Linked DNA regions of Homo sapiens: all the other regions are linked to region 2. The links come from fine-mapping of genetic effects on gene expression. A gene starts in region 2. Each other region holds a variant in brackets. All regions are shown on one strand. Distances are between the middles of the regions. Region 1 has its middle 34 kb from the start of PARP8. Region 2 holds the start of EMB (embigin). Region 3 has its middle 51 kb from the start of EMB. Region 4 has its middle 41 kb from the start of EMB.

Region 1 (2,610 bases), 190 kb before region 2:
CAAACACTCAGTCTTGGCAGTGCAGATGAAAAACTGGGAACCATTTGTGTTGGGTCCAGCATTTGCCATGGACAAGATGCCAGAACCTGTATGCTTTCGGATGAGGTTCTCATCATGAAATTTCTCCACCAGTGCCATTATGGTGTGTGAAGTCACCACCCCGACACATAAACCTTGGAATAATTCTGTGAAAGCAGGAACCCTTATAACAAAATCCTTTCTCTCCAGTGCTCAGAGCATGAAACTTTTCTGCTGTCTTTGGAATCTTGTCTGCAAACAGTTTGATGGAGATGCGGCCCGAGGGCTTGGCGTCGACGGCGATGTCAAAAAACACGATGGGTTTGACCATGGCTGATAGTACAGGGCTCCCAGCGACGGTGGCATCTGCAAAGATAACCACTGATCTTTTTACTGTCTTTATAGTTTGGCCTTTTGCAGAATGTCATATAGTTGAAATCACAGTATGTACCCTTTTCAGACTGGCTTCTTTCACTTAGCAAAATATATTTGTTTTTTCTGTATCTTTTTGTGGCTTGATAGTTTTTTCCTTTTAGCACTGAATAATATTCCACTGTATGAATATACCACAGTTTGCTTATGTAATCACCTATTGAAGGACATCTTGGTTGCTTCCAAGTTTTGGCAATTAGTCTTCATTAATTTTTTCTTTTTTTTTTTTTTTTTTTTGAGACAGAGTCTTGCTCTGTCACCCAGGCTGGAGTGAAGTGGCATGATCTCAGCTCACTGCAACCTCCGCCTCCCAGGTTCAAGTCATTCTCTTCCTCAGCCTCTGGAGTAGCTGGAATTACAGGTGTGCACCACCACGCCTGGCTAGTCTTCATGAATATTTATAGGACTGTATAGAATTAAGAGCCATCAAAGGGGATCCCTGAATTCTTTCTGTTTTTCTTACAAATACCAGTTTTAAGGTCAAGATTTACTACCCCATGCAACAGTGTGCCACATTTTAAATTTTAAATTTTTGACTGTTTGTCTAAAGGTCTCAGGCAACCTAAAAGGCCAGTTAGAAGTCTTTCATCCTCTAACAAAGGATGGATCGTAAAATGAAATACTGTTGAGACTCTCCCCTTGGGTACTAATTCTGCAAAAACCTAGAATCTCAGAGACAAGAGACAAATATTTGGAGTGGATCATTAGATGTAATGACAAAAGGAGTCACTTCAACATTCATAACAAAGATCAAAGATTGTTGTATTTTTTATATGGGAGACACCAGACAAGCTTATACTTAGTTACTAGTTCAGAGGATACACCACCACATCCTCTGGCATGAGTACAACCTTATAAGCCATTGTCTCCAGCTGGCACTGTGATTGAGTCTTTAATAAAATATTCGCCATTCTATAATAATAATAATTTTGGTTAGTGATAGGATAAATGGTGGACCAGGTGAGTGCAGTGAATATCTACTCATTTGTTATACAACAAGTTCTTTGAATAGAAGGATGTAGAACAGGAT[A/G]TTATGGCAGTATGTATAAAGCATTCAATGTACCCACGGAGAGTGGTGATCAGAGAAACATGATGTCAGGTCAAGCAAATGTAATTCAAGGATATAAAGCTAGATTCCATTTACAACATTCCTTGTTGCCTTTATCATAGAGGAGCTCCAGTAAAATCAACAAGTCTGACAAAAGGTGACTGTTTTTTTCACCCAGGATATGTTATTTTGTGCTTAGCCTTGGTCCTTGTTGCTTGTGTGTTGGACACCTAATAGTCTTGACAGCTAAATAGGCTTTGGTAAGGGACAGTGGTAAAGTCCAACATGTTGCTAAACCTATATGTATTCTCTACTGCTACCACCAATGTTGCTGTTTATTAGCCTTCTGAGCAAGCAATGTAGTGCCTGGTGAAAGAAGTTGTTTCATACCTTCATATTTATTTGATAACCTTCCTGATGATAGTTTGGTGAGTATTCATATTAAGCACAAATATTCTTACACTCTGGCTCATTTTCTGTAGTTCATCTACGTATTTTTCCCCAAAACTCATTGTCACCAATCCTTCAATCTTTGTCCTTCCAAGTCCCTAATTATCTTTTTTTTTTTTTTTTTGAGACGGAGTTTCGCTTTGTTGCCCAGGCTGGAGTGCAGTGGTGCAATCTTGGCTCACTGCAACTTCTGCCTCCTGGATTCAAGAGATTCTCCCGCCTCAGCCTCTCGAGTAGCTGGGACTACAGGCACACACCACCACACCTGGCTAATTTTTGTATTTTTAGTAAAGATGGAGTTTCACCATGTTAGCCAGGCTGGTTTCGAACTCCTGACCTCAGACAATCCGCCTGTCTTGTCCTCCCAAAGTTCTGGGATTACAAGTGTGAGCCACCAGTCCTGGCCCCAAGTCCCTAATTACCTAGACAAATTTTTAGCTGCCACATATAAATCAGTAATATCTCTCCTTCTAGACATCGTGGACAACTGATTACATAGGCTGAATTTCTTTTAAAATTGCATTCAAGTAGGTTATAATGCCTAAGCAATCTACTTTTGGCTGTTGCTGTGATGTTGTACAGCGACTTCTGTAAATCAGGCTCAATTTTTCCCTCACTAATCAACTGGCCATAGAGAAATTCCCATGAAGACATAGGTATAG
Region 2 (2,610 bases):
TGAGAAGTGCTTACTGTTGACACTCTACCTAATTATAGGGAAATGTGTGCAGTTAGTCCTGAGACCAGATGCAGGGTTGAAAGAAAGAGGTGTGATGTAGCAGCCATTGATTAGGCAATTTGGGTTTAGCAAGCCCAGTCAATGCCCTCAGAGGGTCAACAGTGTATAAGATTTAGTCCTTGAAGGCATCTTTTAAAGTTTCATTCAGAAGATTTTAATAATTTTGACCATAATTTTCTGAGAAGAGGCTTTTCTGAGATTTGTCATTCACAGATAAACAGTTGTCTAATTTGTGTGTGTGTGTGTGTACATGTGTGCATGCGTGCATTTGTGCATGTGTGCCTATCTAGCCTCTTTTGAACACAATGGTAGATTGGCACCTGGTAGATAATATTGTTGAATGAATTGTATTATTCATATTATCTCACTGCCAATTTGAAGAATCTACATTCTGTTTCCAAAGTTTTGTGCATATAATACTAAACCAGAAACAGACGTGTTTTAGTAATACGTACCAATTACAAATTAACCATTCCTGCCTGGAATAAACACAGGTTTTGTTAAATAGCTCAATTTTCAAAATTTGTCTCATGTTATTTCCAATCCTTTTTTTTTTAACGCCGATATATTTTGAATTTACGAATGTGAAAGCTGAACTTCAAAAAAATAAAGGGAGAGGAAACAAAGCTCGTGAAAAATTTTAAAAATATCTTTTAATGCGTTATAACATCCTGGAGAGAAATCAAATCAATGTGTTTCAATGTTACAATATAGATTTCTCCTCCCCTCCCGGATAAAGCACTAATTTATTTAATTTGGTTCAGAGCACTGAATATTCCAAGCTACAGCCTTGTGGGTAAGAGCATTATCTTAAAGAGTGTTCGGATTTAACAAAGGTCAATGTCTTGTGCAGTTTACATAGTATCTACTCTCAGTAGCTTTTGCTTCTTGAGCTCTAGGTGGCTCCTCAGAAGCTGTTAGGCTTAACAAACAAAAATAAAGTAAAATCAGACACGGTATGGGGCCTTGGGACTCTAAAACCTTCATCCGGAGAAAATCAGTTAAGCCTTCAGAGACTAGAAGAGAGAATGTGTGTGATTGGTAGGCAAAGCAAAGAAAGATTAACACAAGTTGTCTGGCAGCTGGATAAAACCTTACACCTGCGCAAAAATAAGCCTCCCTCGTAAGAAAGCCCAAAGATGTCCGGGGTCCGGGAGGAGAAAAGTGTTTCTCATCTGTCCCATCAAAGCAAATTAGTGAAACCTGCCTCAGGTGAAGTGCAAAGGCCAGTCTGTAGGCAGAGTTTCGACCTCTCCCCACGAGATTGGCTAGACATCACCTGCCCAAGCTCTCTCCCGACCTGCTAGAGCCGAGAGGGCGGAGGCCGGAGAGGCTGCAGCCGGGAAGTAGCACCGCCACCGCACATCCGGGAACGCCAGCAGCCGGCTGAGGGCTGCATAACTGATGGAGGGCCGGGCGCGGTAAGAGCGTCTCGGGGGAGTGGGGCAAGGCGGCCGGGCCCCTCCCATTCCGCCTTTTCTTCAGCGTCCTACCCGCGGCACTGGCTGCGAGCGCCGGGCCACCTGCGAGTGTGCGCAGGGACTCTGGACACCCGCGGCGGCGAGCTGAGGGAGCAGTCTCCACGAGGACCCAGGCGGACCCTCTGGCGCCATGCGCGCCCTCCCCGGCCTGCTGGAGGCCAGGGCGCGTACGCCCCGGCTGCTCCTCCTCCAGTGCCTTCTCGCTGCCGCGCGCCCAAGCTCGGCGGACGGCAGTGCCCCAGGTGTGATGGGTACAGGGTCCAGGGTAGGGAGGGCGGAGGGCGCGCGAGGCTCGGGTCCCCGCGGGCAGAGGGCATCGCCGGCGCGCCGGGCAAGGGTGGCGGGGAGAGGCGCGGGGATGCTGGTAAGGGCGGGTGGGAGAGTCGGCGGCGGCCTCCCATTAGCTACGTTTGTGTCACCTAAGCTGAACCCTGAAACTGCTGCGGCTCGCGTTCCTGCGCTCTTTGGGGCGAGTCTTGAACGAACAGCGCCCCGCGAGTCGGGCGCGTAGGTAACAGGGCAGAGTCTGGTTTTTCCTAGGAAGAAGGCAGTGGGGTGTGTGGGTGGTTGCAGGGACCAGCTAGCGACTTGGCTTGGGCAAATATGGCATGAATTTTGAAAGCCACATTTCCCCAAGGCCTACTCCCTTTTCTTGATTCGAGAGTAAGGCTCGAGTATCACCTCCTTCCCTCCTCTTGGCAGGTGGGTTGGCTTTGAGGATTTTTTTTTTTTTTTTTTTTTTTTTTTTGAGACGGAGTTTTACTCTTGTTGCCCAGGCTGGAGTGCAATGGCGTGATCTCGGCTCACCGCAACCTCCTCCTCCCGGGTTCAAGCGATTCTCCTCTGTCAGCCTCCAGAGTAGCTGGGATTACAGGCATGCGCCACCACGCCGGGCTAATTTTATATTTTTAGTAGAGACTGGGCTTCTCCACATTGGTCAGTCTGGTCTCGAACTCCCAACCTGAGGTGATCCGCCCGCTTCGGCCTCCCAAAGTGCTGGGATTACAGGCGTGAGCCACCTCACCTTGCCGAGGATGTTTTTTTAGAGCTGAGTAGGGGAAAAAACATC
Region 3 (2,610 bases), 51 kb after region 2:
TTCCATTTGTTTGTGTCCACTCTTATTTCCTTGAGCAGTGGTTTGTAGTTCTCCTTGAAGAGGTCCTTCACATCCCTTATAAGTTGGATTCCTAGGTATTTCATTCCCTTTGTAGCAATTGTGAATGGGAGTTCACTCATGATTTGGCTCTCTGTTGGTCTGTAATTAGTGTATAGGAATGCTTGTGATTTTTGCACATTGATTTTGTATCCTCAGCCTTTGCTGAAGTTGCTTATCAGCTTAAGGAGATTTTGGGCTGAGACAATAGGGCTTTCTAAATATACAATCATGTAATCTGCAAACAGAGACAATTTGACTTCCTCTTTTCCTAATTGAATACCCTTTTTTCTTTCTCTTGCCTGATTGCCGTGGCCAGATCTTCCAATACTATGTTGAATAGGAGTGGTGAGAGAGGGCATTCTTTTCTTGTGCCAGTTTTCAAAGGGAATGCTTCCAGTTTTTGCCCATTCAGTATGATCTTGGCTGTGGGTTTGCATAAATAGCTCTTATTATTTGTAGATATGTTCCATCAGTACCTAGTTTATTGAGAGTTTTTAGCATGAAGGGGTGTTGAATTTTGTTGAAGACCTTTTCTGCATCTATTGAGATAATCATGTGGTTTTTATCATTGATTCTGTTTATGTGATGGATTGTGTTTATTAATTTGCATATGTTGAACCAGCCTTGCATCCCAGGGATGAAGCCGACTTGATCGTGGTGCTTTTTGATGTGCTGCTGGATTCGGTTTGTCAGTATTTTATTGAGGATTTTCGCATAGATGTTCATCGGGGATATTGGCCTGAAATTTTCTTTTTTGTTGTGTCTCTGCCAGGTTTTGGTATCAGGATGATGCTGGCCTCATAAAATGAGTTAGGGAGGATTCTTTCTTTTTCTATTGTTTGGAATAGTTTCAGAAGGAATGCTACCAGTTCCTCTTTGTACCTCTGGTAGAATTTGGCTGTGAATCTGTCTGGTCCTGGGCTTTTTTTGGTTGGTAAGCTATTAATTATTGTGTCAATTTCAGAACCTGTTATTGGTCTATTCAGAGATTCAACTTCTTCCTGGTTTAGTCTTGGGAGGGTGTATGTGTCGAGGAATTTATCAATTTCTTCTAGATTTTCTAGTTTATTTGCATAGAGGTGTGTATAGTATTCTCTGATGGTAGCTTGTATTTCTTTGGGATTGGTGGTGGTATCCCCTTTATCATTTTCTATTGCATCTATTTGATTCTTCTCTCTTTTCTTCTTTA[T/C]TGGTCTTGCTAGCAGTCTATCAATTTTGTTGATCTTTTCAAAAAACCAGCTCCTGGATTCATTGCTTTTTTTTTGAAGGGTTTTTCTTGTCTCTCCTTCAGTTCTGCTCTGATCTTAGTTATTTCTCGTCTTCTGCTAGCTTTTGAATTTGTTTGCTCTTGGTTCTCTAGTTCTTTTGATTGTGATGTCAGGGTGTCAATTTTAGATCTTTCCTGCTTTCTGTCATGGGCATTTAGTGCTATAAATTTCCCTCTCCACACCGCTTTAAATGTGTCCCAGAGATTCTGGTACGTTGTGTCTTTGTTGTCATTGGTTTCAAAGAACATACTTATTTCTGCCTTCATTTTGTTATTTATCCAGTAGTCATTCAGGAGTAGGTTGTACAGTTTCCATGTAATTGTGGGGTTTTTAGTGAGTTTCTTAATCCTGAGTTCTAGTTTGATTGCACTGTGGTCTGAGAGACTGTTTGTTATGATTTCTGTTATTTTGCATTTGCTGAGGAGTGTTTGACTTCCAATTTTGTGGTCAATTTTAGAATAATTGCGATGTAGTGTTGAGAAGAATGTATATTCTGTTGATTTGGGTGGAGAGTTCTGTAGATATCTATTAGGTCAGCTTGGTCCAGAGCTTGGTTGAAGTCCTGGATATCCTTGTTAATTTTCTGTCTCATTGATCTGTCTAATATTGACAGTGGGGTGTTAAAGTCTCCCACTATTAATGTGTGGGAGTCTAAGTCTCTTTGTAGGTCTCTGAGAACTTGCTTTATGAATCTGAGTACCCCTGTATTGGGTGCATATGTATTTAGGATAGTTAGCTTTTCTTGTTGCATTGATCCCTTTACCATTATGTAATGCCCTTCTTTGTCTCTTTTGATCTTTGTTGATTGGTTTAAAGTCTGTTTTATTGAGACTAGGATTGCAACCTCTGCTTTCCATTTGCTTGGTAAATATTCCTCCATCCCTTGATTTTGAGCCTATGTGTGTCTCTGCATGTGAGATGGCTCTCCTGGATACAGCACACCAATGGGTCTTGACTCTATCCAGTTTGTCAGTCTGTGTCTTTTAATTGGGTCATTTAGCCCATTTACACTGTTAGTATTGTTATGTGTGAATTTGATCCTGCCATTATGATGCTAGCTGGTTATTTTGCCTGTTAGTTGATGCAGTTTTTTCATAGCATCGGTGGTCTTTACAATTCGGTATGTTTTTCCAGTGGCTGGATCAGTTGTTCCTCTCCATGTTTAGTGCTTCCTTCAGGAGCTCATGTAAGGCAGGCCTGGTGGTGACAAAATGTCTCTGCATTTGCTTGTCTATAAAGGATTTTATTTCTCCTTCACTTATGAAGCTTAGGTTAGCTGGAT
Region 4 (2,610 bases), 40 kb before region 2:
AAGCGGAGTTTAATGGGATAATGGAACATGCACATGAGCAGAGGAGATACATTCAGGGCACATGTACACTGTGCTTCATTGACACTCCACTTGCAGATTGCCTTTGCAATGCGCCATATGCACAGAATTTCAGTGGACCACTAGGCTTGGGAATTCAGTGAGACTTAAAGTAAATAAAAGGTAAGCATTTTATATATGGGACTGAGTAAGAGGAGGGCGATGGAACAGGACACTGACAGCTTTTAGAGCCAGTGTATTCCTTTGAACACAACCTTGCTTCAAATGCAGAAAGAAAGCAGTGGCCTTTCATGATATCTGAATAACCAAAGAAGCCTATCACACCCTTTCTTAATTAAGTTGTGTTCTTATATTGGCCAAGCACTTACATAAAAAATGATGACACAGAAGGAAAGGGAAAAATAGGACAGCCCATAGTTCCTTTTCCTTTCAGTCTTTCCTTACTTGCCTGTAGCAAAAGGTAGAGAGTGTTGGTAGAATGTGCATGTATCGAGAAGTAAAATAAAAACTGTTGCACTGCTTTGGTGCAAAATTTCTTCTTATTTGGTAAGAGGAAAATACACATGCATGTATGAACTATGAAATATAAATTGTATAATTTCAGTAATTATACATATAAATTAAATGCTCTTATATCAGCATCTAAATGTGGTATTACACAATACAAAGATGAATGGTAAAATTCTTTGAAGTAATCAAAATTTTCTTCTTCACTTAGAATGACATTAAATAGCAAATAAAAGAGACATGACAAAACAATGCGGAGACTGTGGGAGAAAGGTAACAGCTTGATAGTTTAATACGTTTAGTGGAACTTTTTTTGTGCTTTTTGAATAAGGGGCCCCACGTTTACATTTTAAACTGGGTCCTGCAGATAACGGAGCTGTCTCAGCCCAGTTGATTGACGTCCTGGAGAGGATCCCTCAATGGCAGAGAGCTTGGTGACATGTTCTAGATGTTGCTTCAGGCGTTTTTGTTTGACTGTGTTTCTTGACTCCCTCATTGTGACAAACTTCTCCAGATTCTCTCAGGGCTTTTGAGGCCAACTCATTCACCCTCATTACCATTTCCCTGGCCTATCCCAAACTTATGCTGTTGCCTTGTTTCTCCAAGAAAGGCCTCAGCATTTCCAAAATGCTTTTCAAAGCATCACCAGGACAATAGAACTCTTTTTTCTTGGCTATGGAGTCCTGCCGAGCCACAAACAGATGGAAAATATAATTCATCCCCTCAAAGATCTGGAAGATACTAAGTGCCACAGCATTTGCTCTGCACCTGGCTCTTCTATGGACCCGATCATCCAAATGAACTTACGGGTCACTTTTTGGGTGTATTTGTGCCAGTGATTTTGCTGATGGGTCTATTTGTCCTTTTATTTCTGGTTCACAC[G/A]GGAGCTCATTATGGTAGTTATAAAATTAGATTTGTGGTGTTTGGAACCTAGCAAAGAGATCCATGAAATTGCAATAGACTACTTAATTATCCAAATTTTTAAGACTAACCTTAATTCATTTATGTATTGTTTCAACGGCACCGCATCTCACATTTTTTTTTCAAGTGGGTATTTTATATTTTGTGCTGATTAACCCCTTGTAAGTGATACATTGCACATATTTTCTCCTAATCTGCATTTTGTTGTTACTTTGTGGCATCTTTCAACATGTATAAACTTTCTTTTAAATTTTGTGTAATGAAAAAGTTTAGTCTTTTTCTGTATTTATTTATTAGAGATGGAGTCTCACTCTGTCACCCAGGCTAGAATGCAATGGTGCGATTTCCACTGGCTGCAGCCTCTGCCTCCTAGGTTCAAACAATTCTCCTGCCTCAGCCTCCTGAGCAGCTGGGATTACAGGTGCCCACCAACATGCCCAGATATTTTTGTATTTTTAGTAGAGATGGGGTTTTACCATGTTGGCCAGACTGTTCTTGAACTCCTGATCTCAAGTGATCTGCCTGCCTCAGCCTCCCAAAGTGCTGGGATTACAGGCATGAGCCACTGTGCCAGGCCTCTGTATTCTTAAATTTTATGCCTATGAAGGCTTTTCTATACCAAAAATAACTTTAAAATTCTTCTATAGCATTTGAACAATGTTATAGTTTTATCCTTAGAACTCTAATGAATTAGAATTTATTGTCTGATAAATGTATAAGAGAAACATCTAAATTTACTTATCAAACTAGATAGATTCTTAAACAAACAGCTACTTATTGGATAATCTAACTCTTTTTAACTGTTTTGAAATATGATATTTGCTATATGCCAAATTCTTGTGTGTATATATGCCTTCTTTTTCTCTCTATTCTTTCATTAGACTATTTGCTTTTTCTTGTACTTATATCACACTGTTGAAGTTATTACAACTATGTAGTATATTATGATATCTAGTAGGACAAATTCTCCTTCAATATTCTTCAAAAATTCCCTGGTTATTGTCTTGATTTACATTTTACAGATATTTTAAGATCAATTTTTATAATAAAATTCTTTTGGAATTTAAATAGAAATTGTATTAAATTTAAAGATTTACTTGGGGAGATTTGGCATCTTTGTAATGTTGAATACTTTCCATCTTGTAATACCTTGCCATTTTATTG

What was found. PIP is the estimated chance that this variant, and not a neighbour inherited with it, causes the effect.
Region 1: its variant is fine-mapped to the expression of EMB in whole blood (INTERVAL, PIP above 0.99).
Region 3: its variant is fine-mapped to the expression of EMB in whole blood (TOPMed, PIP above 0.99).
Region 4: its variant is fine-mapped to the expression of EMB in whole blood (TOPMed, PIP above 0.99).

The regions. Positions count from the first base shown.
Region 1 is chr5:50,630,869-50,633,478 of GRCh38, reverse strand. It overlaps the pseudogene LOC202319. Among named protein-coding and RNA genes, the nearest start is that of PARP8, 34 kb to the left of the region's middle. The variant A/G (reference allele first, on the strand shown) is at 1,481.
Region 2 is chr5:50,440,213-50,442,822 of GRCh38, reverse strand. It overlaps EMB (embigin), which reads left to right and starts at 1,535. Exons shown (of 9, transcript NM_198449.3): 1 at 1,535-1,783. The coding sequence starts at 1,672. RefSeq lists silencers at 1,592-1,721, 1,802-1,991.
Region 3 is chr5:50,388,881-50,391,490 of GRCh38, reverse strand. No RefSeq gene overlaps it. Among named protein-coding and RNA genes, the nearest start is that of EMB, 51 kb to the left of the region's middle. The variant T/C (reference allele first, on the strand shown) is at 1,250.
Region 4 is chr5:50,480,572-50,483,181 of GRCh38, reverse strand. No RefSeq gene overlaps it. Among named protein-coding and RNA genes, the nearest start is that of EMB, 41 kb to the right of the region's middle. The variant G/A (reference allele first, on the strand shown) is at 1,408.